7 linked regions of the Homo sapiens genome follow. The protein of the gene in region 6 purifies or fractionates together with the protein of the main gene of each other region. This does not show direct contact. Each region holds a gene or a part of one and is shown on either strand. Other genes may lie near its edges.

The links.
Region 1: the proteins of KRR1 (region 6) and U2SURP purify together in Homo sapiens (co-immunoprecipitation; 2 studies listed by BioGRID and IntAct, with this or other methods). This does not show direct contact.
Region 2: the proteins of KRR1 (region 6) and RBM42 purify together in Homo sapiens (co-immunoprecipitation; 2 studies listed by BioGRID and IntAct, with this or other methods). This does not show direct contact.
Region 3: the proteins of KRR1 (region 6) and DDX18 purify together in Homo sapiens (affinity purification with mass spectrometry; 3 studies listed by BioGRID and IntAct, with this or other methods). This does not show direct contact.
Region 4: the proteins of KRR1 (region 6) and ZC3HAV1 purify together in Homo sapiens (affinity purification with mass spectrometry; 2 studies listed by BioGRID and IntAct, with this or other methods). This does not show direct contact.
Region 5: the proteins of KRR1 (region 6) and RRP12 purify together in Homo sapiens (affinity purification with mass spectrometry; 2 studies listed by BioGRID and IntAct, with this or other methods). This does not show direct contact.
Region 7: the proteins of KRR1 (region 6) and NOC4L purify together in Homo sapiens (co-immunoprecipitation; 3 studies listed by BioGRID and IntAct, with this or other methods). This does not show direct contact.

Annotation. Positions count from the first base shown.
Region 1 is NC_000003.12:143,018,570-143,022,069, reverse strand, and holds part of U2SURP (U2 snRNP-associated SURP motif-containing protein), read right to left. Parts: intron 2,102-3,500; coding exon 2,034-2,101; intron 1,472-2,033; coding exon 1,377-1,471; intron 721-1,376; coding exon 685-720; intron 598-684; coding exon 515-597; intron 1-514.
Region 2 is NC_000019.10:35,632,036-35,635,110, forward strand, and holds part of RBM42 (RNA-binding protein 42), read left to right. Parts: intron 1-900; coding exon 901-966; intron 967-1,041; coding exon 1,042-1,217; intron 1,218-1,651; coding exon 1,652-1,984; intron 1,985-2,220; coding exon 2,221-2,338; intron 2,339-3,075. UniProt on the Homo sapiens protein: Binds (via the RRM domain) to the 3'-untranslated region (UTR) of CDKN1A mRNA.
Region 3 is NC_000002.12:117,824,691-117,828,190, reverse strand, and holds part of DDX18 (ATP-dependent RNA helicase DDX18), read right to left. Parts: coding exon 3,483-3,500; intron 3,252-3,482; coding exon 3,090-3,251; intron 2,745-3,089; coding exon 2,592-2,744; intron 1,923-2,591; coding exon 1,809-1,922; intron 1-1,808. UniProt on the Homo sapiens protein: ATP-dependent RNA helicase that plays a role in the regulation of R-loop homeostasis in both endogenous R-loop-prone regions and at sites of DNA damage.
Region 4 is NC_000007.14:139,099,721-139,103,220, forward strand, and holds part of ZC3HAV1 (zinc finger CCCH-type antiviral protein 1), read right to left. Parts: intron 1-3,500.
Region 5 is NC_000010.11:97,370,341-97,373,840, forward strand, and holds part of RRP12 (RRP12-like protein), read right to left. Parts: coding exon 3,490-3,500; intron 3,398-3,489; coding exon 3,235-3,397; intron 2,861-3,234; coding exon 2,706-2,860; intron 2,464-2,705; coding exon 2,396-2,463; intron 1,827-2,395; coding exon 1,733-1,826; intron 742-1,732; coding exon 583-741; intron 457-582; coding exon 376-456; intron 221-375; coding exon 115-220; intron 1-114.
Region 6 is NC_000012.12:75,490,363-75,494,609, forward strand, and holds the end of KRR1 (KRR1 small subunit processome component homolog), read right to left. Parts: 3' UTR 501-4,247; downstream 1-500. Other genes in the region: GLIPR1 (glioma pathogenesis-related protein 1 precursor), read left to right, coding at 44-156. UniProt on the Homo sapiens protein: Part of the small subunit (SSU) processome, first precursor of the small eukaryotic ribosomal subunit.
Region 7 is NC_000012.12:132,147,457-132,150,212, forward strand, and holds part of NOC4L (nucleolar complex protein 4 homolog), read left to right. Parts: intron 1-176; coding exon 177-326; intron 327-423; coding exon 424-523; intron 524-615; coding exon 616-650; intron 651-1,135; coding exon of another isoform or gene 1,136-1,152; coding exon 1,153-1,203; intron 1,204-1,327; coding exon 1,328-1,439; intron 1,440-2,756.

The sequences.
Region 1 (3,500 bases), on a different chromosome or scaffold from region 6:
ACAATCAACTACCCATGTAATCAAATGCAGAGAAAACAGGTAACAGTATATATGCAAAATATAATTTTTAATAATAGCATATTATATACTACCGTTACTACATTCCCCATATCATAATTAACAGCACCAATGCAGGAAAAGAATTAAAATATAAAAGACAAACCACAAAGAGTAGTTTACTACTATGAGAAGAAAAAGGGACTCCACAAGGAAACAAGTATGCATCAGAAGTGGACAGTCTCAAAATAATATTATTCATCAATGGTCACACCCTGATTTAATAATAAAATCAGCACCTAGTAAAACATTTCAAATCCAGAGTTCAATCTAGTTACTGAAAGAGGAAACAAGAATATGTGGCAAGACAACCTGGGCCATACCAGTAAGACAACTCTAAAGACTATCCAATTCCATCAGATTTGTCAGCTTCAGAATCTTGATTTTTTTTGACTAACAAAGCTTTCTTCCAAAAGCATAAAGCATATCAATCAACATTCATCTTACTTAATATTACCTGTGGATTAATGTTTCCAAGGTATAAATTAGTAGTGCTTGGATCTCCTACATCATGTGAGCCAGGTGCGTAATCATCAAGAACTAGGGCAGAAAGAAAAAAAGAATTATAACCTGCAAAACATAAAGTTTGGAAAATTTATCGATTAAAAGAGCAAAAAACTGTATTACCACCAGATGATCTATTTCTTCTTGAAGGCGCGTCCACTTAAAGGGGAGAAAAGAAGACAATTATTAGTTTTTATAATACAGTAGTCCCCCCTTACCCTCACCTTTGTTTCCCCCAGTTTGTTACAGTAAGGTATTTCTGAGAGACAAAAAGAGAGACCACTTCACACAACTCTGTTGTTGTTGTTGTTGTTTTTTGAGACAGACTCTTGCTCTGTCGCCCAGGCTGGAGTGCAATGGCACGTTCTCGGCTCACTGCAACCTCTGCCTCTCAGGTTCAAGCAATCCTTCTGCCTCAGCCTCCTGAGTAGCTGGGATTACAGGCACGCACCACCACGCCCGGCTAATTTTGTATTTTTAGTACAGACAGGGTTTCATCATGTTGGCCAGGCTGGTCTCGAACTCCTGACCTTAGGTAATCCACTTGCCTCGGCCTCCCAAAGTGTTGGGATTGCACATAACTTTTATTTCAGTATATTGTTATAATTGTTCTATTACTTATTGTTGTTAATCTCTTACTGTGCCTAATTTACAAATTAATTTTTACCACAGCTATGAATGTGTAAGGAAAAGGATAGTATATATCCATGGTTTCAGACATCCACTGGTGATCCTTGGAATGTAACCCGCCACGGATAAGGTGGGAACTACTGTAATTAATCACAAGCATACACATTAAAATAAATGCCACTTACTAGAACGACGCTGACCATCAGAATCTGACTGAGGAGGTTCAAATCGACTTAATCTGCCTTTTGTTTTATGTCTCTCATCACGTTCCTCTTGAATTCTGTTGAAAATATTTACAATCACTTATAATGAGCCAAAATTTGTTCATTCACATTTCAGAATAGCGCTTATCAAATTACTATCATCAAATAACTAGAAATATCTGTAATTAAATACTGGTACTGATAACCAAGATTAGAGGGTCCCTCAGCTATAATACAACCACGAGCAAATTTCTGATATATCATACTACCAATGGAACACAAAGCCTACTTTAAAGGTGAGGAGGAAATTAAACACTAAAACCACTGAATTTGTTTCTTGCTAAGTCTAACTGCCCCTCACTCCCATCCCAGTGAGTATACTGTTTCCACTGCAAACAGGACTCTGGACATTAAGTAAATCAATTGAACTGAATCCTCGTAATGCAAGCAACCCAGGTGCTGGACTAAATGCTAATTTATTTTCAAAGATAGCCCACCAAATATTATAATATCTAAAACAATCTCATAGCAAACTGGTTAGTAATAACTAACTGGTACAGTATATTCTTTATACTTGCATCTGTTTATGTATCAGCTCAATACACCTATGATAGTTATTCTCCACACTATAAAACTTACTGCTTTAATTCTTCTTTGAAGAGTTCCAAATTGCTTTTTTTCTTTTCTTTCTCTCCTTTTTTAAGTGGCTATAAAGGATATGACAAGTTATACTTCAAACAAAAGGATAAGCAAAACCAATGATTCAATAATAAGAGCCTTTTTACATCATTTCAGTACAAATTGTATGTTCTAATTATTTAAATTAAAAAGGAAGAATGCTTTTCTTATCATTGAACCTCCCTTCCCCTTCCTTCAAAATAACAAACAATTAAATTATTACTACAATTAAACAATTAAAATGACAACCAGTAGTCAGGGAAATTAATGAACATGAAGTAACTGAACTGCCATGGAAAGTAACTGCCAAAAATACGCACTCTTCAAAAATCACCTCTGGAGGACATGAGTTACTGGAACAGTAAGTAACATCTTTGGAATCCTCTTTTAAAACTGCTTCTTAATCTACTTTTGGAATCCTTCTTTTAGAAGTGCCAACATAATTTAATAGGGAAGAATAATCTTTTCAACAAATGGTGCTTGGACAACTGAATATCTACATACAGAAAAATGAAGTTGGACTTCTACTTTACACCATATACTAAATGTACAAAAATTAACTCAAAATGGTTCATGGACATAAAAGTAAGAGCTAAAACTATAACACTTTTGGGAGAAAACCACAGGAATGAATATTCATAATCTTGAATTAGGTGATGGTTTCTTAGATATGACACCAAAAGCGTAAACAAAAGAAAAAAACTGATAAATTGGACTCCATTAAAGTTTAAAACCTCCATGCTTCCATCAAGAAAATGCAAAGACAACCCAGAGAACAGAAAACATTTCCAAATCATATAGCTGATAAGAACCTTGACTCAAGAAGATGTAAAATACTCTTACGATTCAACAACAAAAATACAAATAACCCAATTAAAAAGTGGGCCAAGTATCTGAACAGACATTTCTCCAAAAGAAACTTATAAATGGACAATAAACACATGAAAAGATGCTCAATATAATCAAGTACATGCAAATCAAAACCACAATGAAGTACAACTTCACACACACTAAAATGACTAAAATAAACTTTTCAAACAAAATAGTTTTGTTTGTTTGTTTGTTTGTTTTTGAGATGGAGTTTCGCTCTTGTTGCCCAGGCTGGAGTGCAATGCTGTGATCTTGGCTCACCACAACCTCTGCCTCCCGAGTTCAAGCGATTCTCCTGCCTCAGCCTCCCGAGTAGCTGGGATTACAGGCATGCACCACCATGCCCGGCTAATTTTGTATTTTTAGTAGAGACGGGGTTTCTCCATGTTGGTCAGGCTGGTCTCAAAGTGTTAGTGTACGACGTGAGAAAACTGGAACCCTCATACATTACTGGTGGAACTGTAAAGTGATACAACCACTTTGGAAAAACTGGCAGTTTCTCAAAAGGCTAAACATAGTTACCATGTGACCCAGCAATTCCACTTCTCGGTGTGTGTA
Region 2 (3,075 bases), on a different chromosome or scaffold from region 6:
TAGGACATTACTTCCTTATATGTATGAAAAGGATGCGTGTTCTTACTTGGATGTAAAATTCTGGTATAATCTCGGTTAAACCAAACGTGCTACTTATGTTACCTAAATCCTGTTATACTTATTAATCTGATGATCTCTGAGAAGTTGTAATGTCTCTTACTTTTTAGTATGGTTTTGATCAAAATGCAAATCTGACCTACTTCCCCTGCCCAGCTTCCAACCCTGCTGTGGCTCCCCAGTGCCCTCAGGAGGACACCCATGGCTCAGCCAAGAATGCTGTGCTTTAAGAACAAAAAAGCTCTACTGGGGTGCCTGCTGGCTGCTCAGCCCTTCTCATGACACTCTCTAAGCCCCACTACTTCTATTACAGTTACACTAAACTGAAAAGGGAAAGGTTTTGCTTATAAATATTCTTCCTGCCAATAATATTCCCACTCACCCCTTGCCTAACACTTCATTGCCCCTTGGGTCTCAGCTCACAGGTCCCTTTCTCCAGGAAGCCTTCCCTGGGCCTGGCTGGGTCAGAGGGCTCCCCTCTCTTAGCACTGATCCCACTGCCTGGGCTTCCCTGCTTCCAGCGCTGGTCCCCACTGGCTCTCCTTCTCTAGTGATGTCTCCATTCCCTCCTCCTCTGGACCAGGAGCTCCCTGAGAACCCTGGGTCTGTTGGTGTGTCCCCAGCATTGCCTGCCACAGGGCTGAGCCAGAGGAGCTTCTCAGTGGTAAATTTTCATGGAATGAACCAGGGGAGAGGCCCCCACATCTCCAGGAGGGCTCCCCAGACTCTTCTCCAGGATTTCTTGATGCTGAGAGTGCACACACACACACGCATGCACACACACACCTTGTCCCAAGTGCCCCTGTCCCCCATGACACACACCCCCATCTCTCTCTCCCACAGCTGTGGCCCCCCAGAGGGCCCCTATCCTGCGTCCAGCCTTCGTCCCCCACGTGCTACAGAGAGCAGGTGAGGGGCCAGGGTCATCATCCCTGCCACATAACTCCCCCCAGGCCCTGGAACTCCCCACTAACACCCTGACAGATTCCGCTCTCTCCTCTGCAGCAGCCGGCCCCCGCCCTATGGCCCTACGGCCCCCTCACCAGGCCCTCGTGGGCCCCCCTCTGCCTGGGCCCCCTGGACCACCCATGATGCTGCCACCAATGGCTCGGGCTCCAGGGCCCCCGCTGGGCTCCATGGCTGCACTGAGGCCCCCTCTGGTGAGTGTGAACAGGGAACTAACGGTCAGATGTGCGGTGGACGGGGAGACCATCCATCCTGGCCCAATGGGCTATGTCTGAGTTGGCCTCTCTCCTGACTTTCTGTTTCTCTACCTTCTCACTCTGCCTTTGTCTCTGTCTCTTTCTGCATCTTTCTGTGGCAAAATCTGTTCTCTCCTTTTGTGAAGGGAGTACAGAGAGAAACATGCTATTGGAATATTTCTCTTTTGATTGTTACTGATGTTCTTGTCTGTGGCTGTCTCTCTCTGCCTGTGTTTCTCCTTCTCTGTGTTTGTCTGGCTGGAGACTCTCTGCTTGGGTGTCTCTTGGCTGCTCTCTGGCCCCCAGGCCCTTTCTTTGTTGGATGGAATGGAGATGACAGTAAAGTCTGAGCCTGTGAGCCGGCCCCCCTCATGCTCTCCTCTTACCCACAGGAAGAGCCAGCAGCACCCCGAGAGCTGGGCCTAGGCCTGGGGTTGGGCCTGAAAGAGAAGGAAGAGGCAGTGGTGGCGGCGGCGGCTGGGCTGGAGGAGGCTAGCGCGGCTGTGGCCGTGGGGGCAGGAGGTGCCCCAGCTGGCCCTGCAGTCATTGGGCCCAGCCTGCCGCTGGCCCTGGCCATGCCATTGCCCGAGCCTGAGCCCCTGCCCCTCCCGTTGGAGGTCGTCCGCGGCCTCCTGCCCCCGCTGCGCATTCCTGAACTCCTGTCCCTGCGTCCTCGGCCCCGGCCCCCTCGGCCAGAGCCACCCCCAGGCCTCATGGCTCTTGAGGTAAGCAGGGAGCCTAGCGGTGAAGGGACAGAAGGGACGGGGGGCAGACAGGAGCCCAGGAACTTCCACACAGACAGACCGGACAGCAGGAGGACCTGGGGGAGGGAGGCGGACACATGTGCCCCACATCCAGAAGCACATCCAGCCCTTACTGTGGTGGCAGGAGGGCCGGGGACCAAAGGACAGTGGGAGACCCCAATACCAACCCCTTTGCACCTCTCCCCTTTCCTCTGCAGGTCCCAGAGCCCCTGGGTGAAGACAAGAAGAAGGGGAAGCCAGAGAAATTGAAACGGTGCATTCGCACAGCGGCAGGGAGCAGCTGGGAGGACCCCAGCCTGCTGGAGTGGGATGCAGGTAAGCTGCTGAAGCTCGAGGTCAGGCGTGGCTCGGCCAAGGTCAGACCAGGCTGCTGTCCTTGGGCTGCAGACTGGGAGGGTGAACCCTCTCAGTAGGGTGGGCGCTGTTGTTAGCCCACCTTGGGGAGGGGAGGCTATGGCTCAGGGGCTGGTTCTTCACCTAGCCATGGGCCGGAGCTTGGTGGAGGTGACGGGGACATGGGGCTTTGTAGCCTGTTTTACTCATGAGGTGCCTGGCTTCAGAGAGCATTCTTTTTTTTTCCCAACTCTTAGGATAAAAATTTTTTTTTTTTTTTTTTATGAGACAGAGTACCACTCTGTCGCCCAGGCTGCAGTGCAGTGGCGCAATCTTGGCTCACTGCAGCCTCCGCCCCCCAGGTTCAAGTGATTCTCCTGCCTCAGCCTCCCAAAGTGCTGGGATTACAGGCATGAGCCACTGTACCTGGCCGGGAAAAATTTTAAACACAGATGGCACAGTAAACACCCGTCTACCCACCACCTAGATTCTGCAATTAACATTTTGCTGTGTTCACTTTTTTCCTCTTTGTGTATGTATCTGGTTTCTTTGTTTTTAGCTCAGTCATTTGAAGCAAGTTATAAGTGAATTAATCACTTCTAAATATCTCAGTATTTATCTCCTAAGAAAAGAGATATTTTGGCCAGGCACGGTGGCTCACACCTGTAATCCCAGCACTTTGGGAGGCGGAGGCAGGTGGATCACTTGAGGTCAGGAGT
Region 3 (3,500 bases), on a different chromosome or scaffold from region 6:
TTACAAGAAAAAATCAAACAACCCAATCAAAAAGTGGGCGAAAGATATGAACACACACTTCTCAAAAGAAGACATTTAGGCAGCCAACAGACATGAAAATATGCTCATCATCACTGGCCATCAGAGAAATCCAAATAAAAATCACAGTGAGATACCATCTCACACCAGTTAAAATGGCGATCATTAAAAAGTCAGGAAACAACAGGTGCTGGAGGAGATGTGGAGAAACAGGAACACTTTTACACTGTTGGTGGGACTGTAAACTAGTTCATCCATTGTGGAAGACAGTGTGACGATTCCTCAAGGATCTAGACCTAGAAATACCATTTGACCCGGCCATCCCATTACTGGGTATATACCCAAAGGATTATAAATCATGCTGCTATAAAGACACATGCACATGTATGTTTATTCACAATAACAAAGACTTGGAACCAACCCAAATGCCCATCAATGACAGACTGGATTAAGAAAATGTGGCACATACACACCATGGAATACTATGCAGCCATAAAAAAGGATGAGTTCATGTCCTTTGTAGGGACATGGATGACACGGGAAACCATCATTCTGAGCAAACTATTGCAAGGACAGAAAACCAAACACCGCATGTTCTCACTCACAGGTGGGAAATGAACAATGAGAACACTTGGACACAGGGTGGTGAATATCACACACCGGGGCCTGTCGTGGGGTGGGGGGAGGGGGAAGGGATAGCATTAGGATATATACCTAACGTATATGACGAGTTTATGGGTGCAGCACACCAACATGGCACATGAATACATATGTAACAAACCTGCACATGGTGCACATGTACCCTAGAACTTAAAGTGTAATAATAATAAAAAAAGAAAGAAAGAAAGAAATGTCAACCTGATGAGCACCTGTGCTGTGGGAACAAGGAGGCAGGAGATCAGCGATGGCTTCCCAGCAAAGACAGAGGCGAGCTGAAACCAAGCATTCTGGACAAAGTGTGCAAAAGCTGTAGAGCAATTTCAGGGAACTGCCTGCAGTTACAGGGTAGAGGAAGCCTATCATCAAGACTATGCCAGAAAGGCCAATGAGGATGTAAATGTCAGGCAGGAGAAGGCCTGATATGCATCCCCCACATGGCCTAGCAATGAAGAGGCCACTTAGGGTCCTGATGGATTCAATTCTGGTGTGATAGTAGAAAGCTAAAGCCAAATTAGGCTGGTTAGGGACTGAGAGGGAGGTAAATGGCAAGAATATAAGCCATTTTTCCAGTAAGGCTGACTGAGGAAAGGCAACAGACAGTAGCTCCTGCAGGCAGGGGTAGAAGAACAGGTTTAAGGTTGAAGTTACTTTTTTACAGTGAGAAATTTGAGATGGTAAAGCGCCAACCGCAAGGAAGAGACTGTAGGCCAAGAGTTGATGAATAGGAGACAGAGGGCAGGGGAGGAGGCAGAGGCTAGAGCGAACAAGGATTCCCCACTGCTTCACATGAGGTAAGAGGAAAGAAGGGGAGCAGAAGCAGAGATGACTAGGTGTGAGGGAGCTTCAAAGGAGTGGAGAAGGTTTCAAAGAGGGCTGGAGGGAACAGGAAAGGAGAGGCTGGGACACAGAGGTGTTGCTGGGTAACAGAGCTAGAAAGCCGAGCCATGTGGGCAGTTCCTTCTGTGCTCACTTCTTGGGCTAGAAGTACATAAAACCTTACTTGCTTAATTGCCATAAGAATGGTTGTAACAGCACTGGCCAGACTCGAGACTCCTCTGACACATGTAGAAATGTTGCTTGCTAACAATCCCTACACCAAGAGAAATCTTTCTCCAAGTACAGATCTTTACCTTGGATTGTTTCAAGTAGCGAAGAAAACCCAATTCTTCTGGGCGCAAAATGAGCAAGGCATGCCCTCTCCCATTTAGGCCTCTGGCTGTTCTACCCACACGATGAATATATTCCTTTGGTGGAGAAAGAAAATCTGAGTTAACGCAGTGACTTCCACATGAGCCCATTTGCGTATCTGCATCCTGAGTATGTGCATGTCTGTACTGAGATGGTGTAGTCCCACGGTGCTGGGCCACACACACCTTCACCACACCCCCACAAAGCTGGGCCAGCAATCGCTCTGTGCACATCACCCCCAATAGGCCAATGATTGAGGCCCAAAAAAAAAAAAAAAAAAAAAAAAAAAAGGCTGGACATGATGTTTGCATTAACAGCGATCTAATAAAATGAGTATTATGTGTGCTTCATCATCAAAACGGCTTTAATCCAGTGTTTGTTGAAAATACTTCTCAATGAAGCTTATTCTACCACATATACTACAGAAGTTTATCTACTTCCTTAAGCAATTTTATTTCCTTCAGGCATCTGCTGTTCTTAAGAGATCATTCCAAGGATCTCATTTTCATAACTTAAGTCCCACTGATCCTTTTCAATCCTCTGGCACAGCCCGTTTGAGCCCTGAAAAGCCTTAAGTACTTTTCAATACCAGAGAAATACTGCAGTCACTGTATAGTAGGGATCTTTACCTTGAATGTGGAATGCAGTTTCCGTCAGGGAACTGGGAGAATAAGTGAACTTTTAATGCAGAGTCATTCTGAAGATATTCCAAAGATGCCAGTTACCTTAGGGTCATCCGGAGGGTCATACTGAACAATCCAGTCGACTTCAGGAATGTCTAGTCCTCTCGCTGCCACATCCGTACACAATAGTGTTCCCGAATCTGCATTGCAGAACTGGAAGAATGTGGTTGTACGCTTATTTTGCTTTTGCTTTCCCTAGAATTAAATAAAAACATCCATTAGAGCTGGAATCTTGAGGAAGACTAGCAGTAGAACCCCCAAATTGTGGAACTGTTACCCTATTTCGAGCTCATCCCTTGGCCTATGTCCTATTTCCCCAACTGTTCCGCAAGCCCCTCAAGGAGGATGGTGTCTTGCACTCTTCGAAAGTCCTCATACCCCTCCACACCCAGCAGCGCTCCCCCACACAGGATCCATCATCTAGTGGTGATCAAACTACTCAGAACAATGTTTCCAGGAGAGGGCAATACCTCCAATCCTACAATCTATAGGATTTAATAAGCATACCCTGTTTTCAATGAGCTCATCATCATCACTTACATGAATGGCCAAGACGGGCAAATCAATGTAGTTCAGCAACTCATAGTGGTATTTCACAGACATACAAGATGAAAAGAAGACCATAAGCTTCTTCTTTCGGTTCTTCTTAAGGAATGTAAAGAGCAGAAGGAATCTCTTTTCAGAAGGACAAACAACATATCCCTAGAAAGCGTTTAAGCAGACAGATACAAATGAACCAAGTGGACATTTTCCATTTCCTAACTTGTGTAATTTCATCAAGAGCACTGATAAACACAGTGTGTAAACTGTCATGCCTCACCTACAGCATTTTAAAAGTTCATTAACCCATTTGCTTTCTGAATGATCCTTCCAACAATTACATAAAAACACCAAGTAAGATCCCTACAGTTTTCAGTTATTGATAAAAAGTACCTGTTCAAGACCATCCAC
Region 4 (3,500 bases), on a different chromosome or scaffold from region 6:
GTTCAAGAGCAGCCTGGCCAATGTGGCAAAACCCTGTCTCTACTAAAAATACAAAAATTAGCCAGGCATGGTGGCGCGTGCCTGTAATCCCAGCTACTTGGGAGGCTGAGGCAAGAGAATCGCTTGAACCCAGGAGGCGGAGGTTGCAGTGAGCTGAGATCACACCACTGCACTCTAGCCTGGGTGACAGAACAAAAAATAAATAAATAAATAAATAAATAAACCTCAAAAAAGTAAATAAATAAAATAAATAGTTTTAGCCATTTTTAAAATGGTAAAAAACAAACAAAAAATAAATACTTTATCTCAAAAAATAAATAAAAATAGTTTTAGCCATTTTTAAAATGGTAAAAAACAAACAAACAAAAACTGTTACAAACAAAAATAGAGTGCTATGATGACCAAAAAAGTAAAATGCGAATAAGAAGCAACTACTAAGATGCCAAGTAAGACAAACTTAAAAAAATGAGTAATAAGACTTAAAAGGGCTAGAGATCCAGAATATATAAAGAATTAAAACCACAATGAGGGCTGGGCGCGGTGGCTCACGCCTGTAATCCCAGCACTTTGGGAGGCCAAGGTGGGCAGATCACGAGGTCAGGAGATCGAGACCACCCTAGCGAACATGGTGAAACCCTGTCTCTACCCAAAATACAAAAAAAAAAAATTAGCCAGGGGTGGTGGCATGCACCTCTAGTCCCAGCTACTCAGGAGGCTGAGGCAGAATGGCGTGAACCCAGGAGGCGGAGACTGCACTGAACCGAGATTGCACCACTGCACTCCAGCCTGGGCGACAGACCGAGGCTCTGTCTCAAAAAAAAACAAAAACAAAAACAAAAACAAACAAAAAAAACCACAGTGATACAATTTCACATTCCTTGTATTGGCACAAATTTTTAAAAGCTGACGATACCACTTGGCCACTATGTGAGGCAAGGGAAGGCTCTTATTCTTCTGGTGGGAGTATAACTTGGCAAACACACTTCGGAAAACAATTTGGCATTATCACATAAAACTTTAAGAATCAAAATTCCACTCTCCCTCTCTTTCCACGGTCTCCCTCTCCCTCTCTTTCCACGGTCTCCCTCTCCCTCTCTTTCCACGGTCTCCCTCTCCCTCTCTTTCCACGGTCTCCCTCTCCCTCTCTTTCCACCGTCTCCCTCTGATGCGGAGCCGAGGCTGGACTGTACTGCTGCCATCTCGGCTCACTGCAACCTCCCTGCCTGATTCTCCTGCCTCAGCCTGCCGAGTGCCTGCGATTGCAGGCGCGTGCCGCCACGCCTGACTGGTTTTCGTATTTTTTTGGTGGAGACGGGGTTTCGCTGTGTTGGCCGGGCTGGTCTCCAGCTCCTAACCGCGAGTGATCCGCCAGCCTCGGCCTCCCGAGGTGCCGGGATGGCAGACGGGGTCTTGCTCACTCAGTGCTCAATCTTGCCCAGGCTGGAGTGCAGTGGTGTGATCTCGGCTAGCTACAACCTCCACCTCCCAGCCGCCTGCCTTGGCCTCCCAAAGTGCCGAGATCGCAGCCTCTGCCCTGCCGCCACCCCGTCTGGGAAGTGAGGAGCGTCTCTGCCTGGCCGCCCATCGTCTGGGATGTGAGCAGCCCCTCTGCTCGGCTGCCCAGTCTGGGAAGTGAGGAGCGCCTCTTCCCGGCCGCCATCCCGTCTAGGAAGTGAGGAGCGTCTCTGCCAGGCCGCCCATCGTCTGAGATGCGGGGAGCGCCTCTGCCCTGCCGCCCCGTCTGGGATGTGAGGAGCGCCTCAGCCCGGCCACCACCCCGTCTGGGAGGTGTACCCAACAGCTCATTGAGAACGGGCCATGATGACGATGGCGGTTTTGTGGAATAGAAAAGGGGGAAAGGTGGGGAAATGATAGAGAAATCGGATTGTTACTGTGTCTGTGTAGAAAGTAGACATGGGAGACTTCATTTTGTTCTGTACTAAGAAAAATTCTTCTGCCTTGGGATGCTGTTGATCTATGACCTTACCCCCAACCCTGTGCTCTCTGAAACATGTGCTGTGTCCACTCAGGGTTAAATGGATTAAGGGCGGTGCAAGATGTGCTTTGTTAAACAGATGCTTGAAGGCAGCAGACTCGTTAAGAGTCATCACCACTCCCTAATCTCAAGTACCCAGGGACACAAACACTGCGGAAGGCCGCAGGGTCCTCTGCCTAGGAAAACCAGAGACATTTGTTCACTTGTTTATCTGCTGACCTTCCCTCCACTATTGTCCTATGACCCTGCTAAATCCCCCTCTGTGAGAAACACCCAAGAATGATCAATAAAAAAAAAAAAAAATCAAAATTCCACTACTAGATCTCTAGGGAAACTCATGTACATGTACACAAAGAAGCATATACCAAAATGTTCAAAGCATAATGGTTTAATAGCAAATACTTAAAACAATATCAATTTTACTTTGTTTTTTCAGAGGCAGGGTCTCATTCTATTGCCCAGGCTGGAGGGCAGTGGCGCAACTGCACCTGACCGCAGCCTTGTCCTCCCAGGCTCAAGTGATCCTCCCGCCTCAGCCTCCTGAGTAACTGGGACCACAGGTGTGTGCCACTGTGTCCAACTAATTTTATTTTTTAATGTTTTTGTAGGAGCTATGTTGCCCGGGCTGGTCTCGAACCCCTGACTTCAAGAGATTCTCCCACCTCGGCCTCTTGAAGTACTGGGATTACAGATATTAGCTACTGAGGCCAGTCTCAATTTTAATAATAAGAAGATCAATATATAAATTGTGTACATTCATGCAAAAGAAAACAATGAAGACATTTCAGGGAATCAGAGTAGACCTTCTCTAAAATTGGTGGGGCCCAGAGCAAGGTTATAAATGGAGGCTTGGATACAAATGTCTAAATATTTAACAGTAATAAATCATGCTGAGCTGGGCTTAGTGGCTCATGCCTGTAATCCCAGCAGTTTGGGAGGCTGAGGCAAGAGGAATGCTTGAGCCCAGGCACTCGAGACCAGCCTGGGCAAAATAGTGAGACACTGTCTCTATACACACACACACACACACACACACACACACACACACACACACAAATTAGCCAGGTATGGTGGCACTAGCCTGGTCCCAGCTACTGGGAGGCTGACATGGGAGGATCGTTTGAATCCAGGAGGTGGAGGCTGCAGTGAGCCATATTTGCACCACCACACTCCAGAGTGGTGACAGAACAAGATCCTGTCTCAAAAAAAAAAAAAGTATATATATATGTATATGTATATGTATATGTATATGTATATGTGTGTGTGTGTTTATATATGATATATATAAAATAAAAACTTTAATACAAAAACTTTAAAATTTGTTGTAAAAAAATTTTTTTGGAGACAGAGCCACACTCTGTTGCCCAGGCTGGTGTGCACTGGCATGAACATAGCTCACTGTAACCTCAAAATTCCTGGGATCAAACAATCCTTCTGCCTCAGCCTCCAGCACTGCTAGGACTATGGGCATGCACCACCACGCCCAGCTAATATTTTTTATATA
Region 5 (3,500 bases), on a different chromosome or scaffold from region 6:
GAGGAGCAGCCTGCCCAGGGCCAGGGCACAGAGCTCTCCCCACCTTTTTTGAGGGGTGCTTCCCCCCACCCAGTCTATGAGCAGAGTGTCCACCCCCAGCCCCCTGGGCCTCACCTTCCTGGTTCGAGCCAAACCTTAGGAAAGCATGGCCCATCTCCACGAGCAGTGCAAAAGCGTTCTTCCGTGCGCCCACCGACACCTCCTTGGTGCACAGGATCACCTGGCCAAGACAACTCCATCAGCATCTGCTCCCTGAGCCATCTGCCCGGGAAGCGAATCGAGTCCTCCCACTCCCATCACTGCCCTCCCTGGATCCTGAGGCCCTTAAGAGCCACATTCCAGGGACCCCCCTCTAAAACACACCCGCACACTCACCTCTGGGATGAGGGCAGTGATGAACTCCTTGTGTTCAGCTGAGAGCTTCCTCACGATGTGTAGGAGGCACTTCAAACGGGGCTGTGGGCAAAGGGCTACCAGTCAGGACCCCTCAATGCTACCTCCACCCAACAAGCCTCAACAGTGGCTCCTTTCCTGGTGTTGCCCAGGCTCCCTCGGCAGAGCGGGTGGCCCTAGAGCCCTCACCCTCTTGGCGGGTGAGGAGGTGCTCCGCAGCGAGTCCAGCAGTGTCTTCTTCAGGTCCTCCAGGTGGCTCTGCACGAAGAGGGCCCCGGGGCCCTGAGGACTGGCACACACCTCCTCCAGCACTCGGTAGGCCTTCTTCTGCACCCCGTGGGCCTTGCTCTGGCAGACAGGAACCGGTGAGGGAGGCCTGGGGCTCACTCCCTGTCCAATGCTATCCACGGAGCATCCCCCAGCACTGGAGGGATTCTGAGCAGGGGTCCGTGGGGGCTCATGTGGCTTGACAGAGGACCAGTGGAATGTGGACAGCGAGTGGCTAACTCCTGGGCGAGGCACAGGGGTTGGGGGTGTGTGCCGTGGGGCCCACCAATCCACTCCACTCACCCAGCTCTGGACAGTGCTCACTCCAGTGGCCTGAGCTCATGGTGCCTGGCACGCGCCAAGGCCTGCACATCTGCTGCTCTTTCTAGCCGGAGCACTCTTCTCTCTCCTTCCAAGACTGACAACTCCTTGCTCCTCCAAACCAGCTCTCTGTCACACTCCCCCAACCCCCAACGCCGGACACCTTTCCTGAGGTGACGTGGCCTGGCCCTGGATTTCCATGTCCACCTGCAGTGCTGCCCCAGAGCACTTCTCACACTGTTAGGTAACTGCTACTAAACTGTGGCAATGGGGGCAGCTTTCAGGGGGTCACTGCTGGGCTGAGATCTGCAGGGTTGCTGGCCACAGCAGAGGGCATTTCAAGCTGAGGACCCAAACCCTGCAAAGGCACAGACAGGGCCTGTTATATCAGGGAGGCTTAAGGCAGCTGAAGGAGGCTGCAGCAGAAGTAGAGAGTGGACTGGGTGGGATAAAGCTCAGGCCGGTCTGGGATGGGCCTGGGGAGTGAGCCAGGCAAAGGAGCATGGCCTTGGTTCTACAAGAGTCACTCAGCACGCAAGGCCTAAGCACAGCTGTGCATTTCAGTCCCTTTGGGACCTGCAAGACAGATGGGCTACACAGGACACAAAGAGAAGCCACTGCAGGAGAAAGCAGACAGGGACCTGATCTCGGGAAGCAGCAAGGGACAAAGACATGAAGACAGGCCCCACCTTCCCACAGCCCATCTGCCCCCAAGCGTGGCTGTGTGGCGCTCCTGGCCCCCGAGGCTCACCTCTAGGTAGGGCCGGATGGTGGAGTATAGCTTACTGATGGCAGCTTCGTCAGCACACGGAGCCAAGGCCACGACCAGGTCCAGGACAGACAATCTGCTCGGGGCAGGAGGACAAGGAGAGGGATGGGGAGCTGGAGAAGGGCGCAGACTACCAGTGTTCTTACGTCTACTGGGTATGGGGAGGTGGGAGAAGTCAGGGTGAGGACAAGGGGCTTGAAGGAGCTCATGAACAATAATAATAGCTAGTACCTAACTGAGCATTCATGATGTACCAGTCACCGTTCCTGGTGTTTTACACCTGCTAACTCCTTCAATCCTCATAGCAACCTTGTTGCAAGAACTATTATCGTGCCCATTTTACAGATGAGGCCTTAGAGGCAGAATGGATAAGTAATTTGTCCAAGGTCACACAGCCCATGAGTGACGGGGCTGGGATCAGAACCTGGGCAGTGTATCTCCTGGGTCCTTGTTCCTCCCTACCAGACTAAATGGCCTCTCCAGGAAGAAGGAACTAGTCAGCACAGCCTCTCAGCACAGCCTGGAGAGTTAATACTTCAAGGCTTCCTTAAATAATGCAAGAGGGAACCCACAGTGCTTCTGCCAGATGCACCCTCCAGCTCCCTGGGCTGCTCCAGCTCAAGTGGGAGGCCCTGAGCATGTTACCTGGTAAAGTCAGAGCTGGCAGGGTCGAGCACCTTCTCACTGGCTTTTTCCAGGAGACTGTTCACCAACTTGTGGCCCCGAGGGAATGAGGAGAAGAGAGTCATTGGGGAGGAGCGAAAGAAAGCAGCAATGGCAGCAGTCCCAGAGCGGCCTCCCCATCAGCCCCCAGCCCTGCCCAAGCCATGACTGCTGGTATGTGCTCCAAAACACAGAGACCCACGTGAGCCCTGGTGGGTAGGGTCTCGGCCTCTCTGACCCTGCCCACCTGAGAGCTCCCCTCCTCCCTCCTTCCCTCCCTTCCGTGGCTCACCTGAGTGTCAGTGATGGTGAGGTAAGTTCTGATGGTTTCCAGCACAGCCCGGCGAGGGGCTGGAGTGTCCCCGGCTGCCACGGGCTGCCCATACAGGTTGAAGAGGATCGGCAGAAAGTTCTTGGCAAAGCGACTCACTTCAGCACGGTCAGCCTCTGGTAAAAGGATCAAAGTTTGCACTAAAGGCACAGGAGCTGACTGTGCCTCAGTGGCTGCTGGGGCTGTGGCCCAGAGGCCCTCTCTTGGGGGAGCTGGCAGGACTTGGAATCCATGGGTTTGGGGCTCTCTGTGGCAGAAGCTGAGCCAGGGCATGGAGAGCCTGGTGCCCCAGTGGCCCATGGTCCTCGATGGCTCCAACCCCAGGGAGCCAGCAAAGTTATCCCCTGGGGTCTGCAGCAGAAGCAGCAAAGGATGAGCTCCAGAGGTGAGTTTCTGTGGCTCTGCCTGGCAAGGAGTGTAGCAAGCCAGGGGATGGGGCCAGGGACCTGTGTCATCCTCCCCAGCCCCCACTCCCACAGCCCACACGTACCTGCCTGGCAGCCCTTGGTGATGAGGGTGCGCAGGGCCTGGCACACGGTGACCCTCAGGTCTGGACGCTCGCTGATGGCCATGCCCAGCGTCCGTGCCAGCCCTTTGAAGGAGATGGCCACATCTGTAGGCCTTGTGCAGAACCCAGGCAGGAGTGTCCACATCTGGAGAAGGAGGGGACAATAAAGGAAGGTGACACGCAGCCACCTGTGCCCCTGTGTGCTTCTCCCCACGCCCTCCCCCAGCTGACCCTTACCTGCCACTGGA
Region 6 (4,247 bases):
ATCTTATGGTTTTTCTCTGTTAAAAATCCTTATTTCCTTTCAGGTTGTTTGGGCAGATAGTTACAAAGTTGGCTGCGCAGTTCAATTTTGCCCTAAAGTTTCTGGCTTTGACGCTCTTTCCAATGGAGCACATTTTATATGCAACTACGGACCAGGGTAAGTGCCTGAATCAACCGGTTTATAGGAAACGCCCCCCCCCCCCCGCAAAAAAAAACAACAACAAAAAAAAACATTTTAGCAGTATTCCTCTTCATTATAGAAAATCTGGATAAAGTATAAATAAAAAATTAACATAACCTTTAATTCTTCTGCCCAGAGATATACTTAATTAACATTCTGGTACATTTTTCTTGGAGAGAGAGAGGGTGTGTGTGTGTGTGTACATCCTTTATATATACTACCTAAATACATACGCACATATTTTTAAGAGTGGTAAGACTAAAATATTCATCAGGGACATAAATTGTATATGGTAATACCACAAAGTGGAAGAACTGATGTTATATTTATTGGTTTATTAGAAACTTGGCAATTTTACACAATTTTCAAAGCAAAACAGATTCCTCAACTTATATAACCTATTTCATTTACTTTTGACAGTTGTTTTTAAAACAGATATAGTTCCCACTTTGGGAAACAGGGCAAACACCTTCCTCCTACTTTCTTTAAACTTACATATGTGTGCTTGTGTCATACACATATTTAGAAATCTGATCATACTGAAAATATACATTTTCTATTTTTCACTTAAAATTATGCTGTGAAAAATTTTCCTTTTCAAAATTTTAAGTGATTTTAATCATAAAAATGATAGATTGTTTATATAATGCTTACAATGCTCTCAGCACTGTTAAAGTGCTTCACATATATTAACTTAATCTTCACCAGAAGTTTATGAGATGGCTCCTATTACTACCCCTGTTTGGCAAATGAGAACAGCAAGGCACACACGGGTCAGCAACCTGCCCAAAGTTCTACAGTTAGTGACTATCACTGATGGACTTTGATCTGGCTGTCTAGCTCCAGAGTCCATGCTCTTGATGGTACCACCATCCTGTTGAAGAATTTAGATTGTTCACTATATTTTCATTTAATATATGATGAACAACCTCATATATGTATCTTCAGTCACTTCTATTTCCCTATAATTCCTTGAGATACTAGCACGTAAAGACTGTGACCATTTTTGTTTTAAGTACATATTGCCAAATTACATTCCACCATTATATCAATTTGTATTTCACCATCAGTACTAGGTATTATAATTTCTTAGTATTTTCTAATTTGATGGAAATGGCATTTCATTTGCTTTCTTTTGCATCTCTGTGATTACTAGTAATTATAAATTTCTTCACATAATTGTCTATTTATATTCCTTTTTCTGTGAATCATGTGGGCTGACCATTTTTCTACTAGATTTTCTTATTTATAAAAGTTTTTATATTTTAAAGGTTTTTAACCATTTGCAATATATATAATGATCTTTAATTTGTTGCCTTTGAATTTTTGGATTCCTGGAGATTGGCTGAAAGAAAGCCATTTCCCTGGTGTAATGTGCAGAAGACATGCTCGATACTCTGACTGAGTGCTGTAGGTGTGAAGGAGGAGACAAAGCGTCATTCTGAAGATGACAGCTTTGACTTAATATCTTAAGAGTTGGAAAATAAAGAAAACCCAGAAAAAACTAGACAAAGCCATAATTCAGTTAGTGGTAACTTTTCATGACTTTTTTTTTTTTTTTTGAGACAGGGTCTCTCACTCTGTCACCCAGGCTGGAGTACAGTGGCTCGCTTACGGTTCACTGCAGGCTTAACCTCCCAGGCTCAAGCAATCCTCCCAACTCAGCCTTCCTAGTACCTGAGACTACAGGCACATGCCACCATGCCCAGTTAATTTTTTTGTAGAGACAGAGTTTTGCCATATTGCCCAGGCTCATCTCCAACTCCTGGGCTAAAGTGATCCACCTGCCTCAGCCTCCCAGAGTGCTGGGATTATAGGCATGAGCCACTACACCCGGCCTCATATGACATTTTTAATGGTTAAGATACAATTAATTTACTGTGTGACCCTGGACAAGTTAACTCTGAATCTCAGTTTAACCTCCAATAGATCAGGGTTACAGGACCCATCACTTAGAGTAGCTATGAAAGTGACAAGAGAAGGCTTTGTAAAATACTAGGTATATATAATGCTTGGCAATAGTGAATGTTTTGTAAGTATTCATGATTTTTATTCATTAAAGTATAAATGTAAATTTTCCTGGTTTAGACTCACTTATCTTCAGAGTTATAAACAATATTAAATTATAAAACTTACAACCAAAGTTATAATGCTTCCATAAAGACTAACTTCAAATATTCATTTATTCAACAAATATTTGTTTTACTGAGCTCCAAAGGAGAACAGGGCAGTCTCTGTCTTTATGAGAGTAATATTTATGGGGCAAACAGATAATAAAAATACAAGTAAAATAACTGCATCATTATGGGGCAATTAAGGAACTATAAATAATACTGTAATAGAAACTATCAATAGGCAAGGCCCCTGTTTAGAATAATCAGGGAAGGGCTTCTTGTGTTATATTTAAGCTTAGGCATGAAGAATGAGAAGGAATCAGACATAAGAACTTCTGGAACAGCTGTCTAGTGGAGAAAAGAACAGCAAAACTTCCGTGAAGAAAAGTTTGGCAAGTTTAAACCACAGAGACTGGTGCCCTCGGTCTGCTAAACAGATGAAACGGGGGGAGGAAGGCAGTTGCAGATCTAGCGGGAACTTTTAGATCATGACAAAGTTTACATAAGAAGTCATTCAAGTATATTAAGCAGGGGAGCGATGAGACCTTTAAATTTGGACATCAGTCTGGATGGAAAATGGATTAGAGGAGCATAAAAGGTAAAACAGAGAGACCAGTTAGGAATGTCCTCATTTCCCTTTGCCCTCTGCCCTCTGAGGTATTATTTTCCTATACACAAAAAGTTGTAGGCCCCCATTCCACATAATCTTAGGAAGTCCAGTATCCTCCTCAATATTTCTGATACCTCAGAATGGGGTCTGGGATGCTTAATCTTCCAGTTGCCTGTAATACTCTCCTCTTCATTTCCCCTGGGCACCATGAACAAGGGTATGGTGTGTAACAGATCTTTACTCAGAGTGGATTAGTGGAGGAGAGGATTATAGCACAGAAGAGGAAATAACTTTGACCACAAGATAGTCAAGATAGTACCAGTGTGCTTAGGCCGTCACTGCCTTAGGGACCCTTACCCATATTTATCTTTTTCTTTAAAGATTTGTCTTCGGTCTTCCCCTGGGTCCCATAACCCCAACCCTCTTCTCTCTCAGGCTACCAGGGAAAACATTGAAATGTCCTGTTGCTTTATTGTGCTGAATACTTTAGGTCCCACAGTCTTAATGACTCCCATCTAGACAAATCCAGGCCTTTCCAGTAGCATGTTTCTCCCAAGATGAATACTACCATTTCCACAGACCTCACCGACTGTCTTGGTTTTTAGCTTATTTTTAAGTAGCATTTTTTACCTTTTCCTTTACAGTTTGGAATGCACAACTAAGTATCATAAATGACTTTATTAAAATCATTCTAGAACTTAAACCACTTAATACTGTGCTTATTAACAATGAAAGACATTCCAATGATTAATGTCTATTTTGGACATCTTTTGAAATTGCTATCAGAATTTCTACTATATTACCTTTTTTCCATGGTGTAGAGTAAGCAGAGGGCTAATTAAATTTCTGAAGCAACTTAAAATTTGGAGCAAAATGAGATAAGAACATAGATTTGGGGTTGGAAATAAGGTATCGTTATAAAGTTGTGTGTCTAAGGTGAGAGTTCTCAACTTTGGAGGTAATTGTAGAGTGCTGGGGAGAGGAGGACCATAAACTTTGATTAGAAAATAGTTTTATTTTTATTTTCACTAACCTCTATTAAAAATAACATTTCCTTTCATTATGAATGAAGACAACACTCCACCATCATATTAGCAATAAACGTGACTCTGACTTAGCAGTATCATCTTTGTAAATATCAGATATTTTCATACCACATTCCACTTGCTGCAGAGAACTCAAAATATAGTTTGTGTTCATCACTGCATTGAAACTAATAGCCCCCGGTAGATCTTAATAGAGAAGCACATATTACTTTATCACAAATCTTGTTTTAAACATTTTGATAACTATTTCAATTTAATTGGTTTCCTTTATAATCCTATGTATTTTATGCATTTAAC
Region 7 (2,756 bases), about 57 Mb from region 6:
GGGGGCGGGGCCTGCTGAGCTGAGCCTGGCTGTTGGCTGGGACACTCCTGTGGCTCCTGTGGCCCACCCAACCAGGAGGAGTCTGCCTGGGGGGCTCGATGGGGCAGGGCTGCCTGCCTGGACCTTGCTGGCGTATGCTGGGCCGGGCAGGGCTGCTCACTGGTCCTTGCCCCTAGTTGGTGGTGGGAGGCCTGCTGTCTCCTGAGGAGGACCAGAGCCTGCTCCTGTCCCAGTTCCGGGAGTACCTGGACTACGACGACACCCGCTACCACACCATGCAGGCAGCCGTGGATGCCGTGGCCCGGGTCACTGGCCAGCACCCCGAGGTGGGTGATGGGGTCCTGTCGCCAGCATCATGCTGTTGCCTCCCAGGGAGGCAGGGACTGGGGGGCGGCGTCCAGGCACTCAGGCCAGGCTCCGCAGGTGCCCCCCGCCTTTTGGAACAATGCCTTCACGCTGCTGTCTGCCGTGAGCCTGCCCCGCCGGGAGCCCACCGTCTCCAGCTTCTATGTGAAGCGGGCGGGTGAGTGTGCTGAGAGTCAGGGGCGGACAGGGCTGAGCCTTGGTCTGCCTCCCCTGCGGGTCAGGTGACCTTTGCCCTCGCTTTCCCTGCAGAGCTGTGGGACACCTGGAAGGTTGCTCACCTGAAGGTGAGTTGCTTCTGGAGAGCCGGGCACCCTCCCGGGTTTGGGGGTGTGTGTGGGGTGCATGTGAGACCCCATGGAGGCTGCCGCCTTCCTCACCAGAGGAAACTCCCAGGGTACAGGTGGCAGCTTGCACGGCCACCAGGTCACTCGAAGTGTGGGAGGTGACGAGACCTGTGAACTCGGGACCCTCCCTTGGGTCAGAGGCCACCGCCGCCTCTTGGAGTCAAGCCTCTGGTGCCACCTGTGGGCCCCGTGGGCTGTTTTGGGCGCAGCCCCCCTCTTGGCCATGGTCTTGCCAAAGCTGCTTTCTTGGCTGTTCTGAGACTCCAGCCTCGAGGGCAAGGCGTACCTGACTTGAATGGGGACAGGAAGAAGGAAGGCAGGGTCAGAAAAGTGGAGAGCAGGCTTGTGTTGGCTCAGGCTGGGCTTCGGGGTGCCCTGGCAGCTGCTCGGGCTCTGGTCTGGGGTGGGGAGGGCGGCGAGTGCAGTCTGGACCCCGTTGCAGGAGCACAGGAGGGTTTTCCAGGCCATGTGGCTCAGCTTCCTCAAGCACAAGGTAGGGGCCAGGCCGGGGAGGGGGCGGGGGCGGCATCCGGGTCTCCCCCAGGGCGGAGGCCTCACCCCGACCCGCCGGCCCCCGCCCACCCGCCCCTCACCCCCACCTGCCGGCCCCCGCCCAGCTGCCCCTCAGCCTCTACAAGAAGGTGCTGCTGATTGTGCATGACGCCATCCTGCCGCAGCTGGCGCAGCCCACGCTCATGATCGACTTCCTCACCCGCGCCTGCGACCTCGGTGAGTGCCGCCGCCTCGCTCACACCACACCCCTAATCCCCTCGGTGAGTGCCGCCGCCTCACTCCTACCACACCCCTAATCCCCTCGGTGAGTGCCGCCGCCTCACTCCTACCACACCCCTAATCCCCTCGGTGAGTGCCGCCGCCTCACTCACACCACACCCCTAATCCCCTCGGTGAGTGCCGCCGCCTCACTCCTACCACACCCCTAATCCCCTCGGTGAGTGCCGCCGCCTCACTCCTACCACACCCCTAATCCCCTCGGTGAGTGCCGCCGCCTCGCTCACACCACACCCCTAATCCCCTCGGTGAGTGCCGCCGCCTCGCTCACACCACACCCCTAATCCCCTCGGTGAGTGCCGCCGCCTCGCTCACACCACACCCCTAATCCCCTCGGTGAGTGCCGCCGCCTCGCTCACACCACACCCCTAATCCCCTCGGTGAGTGCCGCCGCCTCGCTCACACCACACCCCTAATCCCCTCGGTGAGTGCCGCCGCCTCGCTCACACCACACCCCTAATCCCCTCGGTGAGTGCCGCCGCCTCGCTCACACCACACCCCTAATCCCCTCGGTGAGTGCCGCCGCCTCGCTCACACCACACCCCTAATCCCCTCGGTGAGTGCCGCCGCCTCACTCACACCACACCCCTAATCCCCTCGGTGAGTGCCGCCGCCTCACTCACACCACACCCCTAATCCCCTCGGTGAGTGCCGCCGCCTCGCTCACACCACACCCCTAATCCCCTCGGTGAGTGCCGCCGCCTCACTCCTACCACACCCCTAATCCCCTCGGTGAGTGCGGCCGCCTCACTCACACCACACCCCTAATCCCCTCGGTGAGTGCGGCCGCCTCGCTCACACCACACCCCTAATCCCCTCGGTGAGTGCCGCCGCCTCGCTCACACCACACCCCTAATCCCCTCGGTGAGTGCCGCCGCCTCGCTCACACCACACCCCTAATCCCCTCGGTGAGTGCCGCCGCCTCACTCCTACCACACCCCTAATCCCCTCGGTGAGTGCCGCCGCCTCGCTCATACCACACCCCTAATCCCCTCGGTGAGTGCCGCCGCCTCACTCACACCACACCCCTAATCCCCTCGGTGAGTGCCGCCGCCTCGCTCACACCCCTAATCCCCTCGGTGAGTGCCGCCGCCTCGCTCACACCACACCCCTAATCCCCTCGGTGAGTGCCGCCGCCTCGCTCACACCACACCCCTAATCCCCTCGGTGAGTGCCGCCGCCTCGCTCACACCACACCCCTAATCCCCTCGGTGAGTGCCGCCGCCTCGCTCACACCACACCCCTAATCCCCTCGGT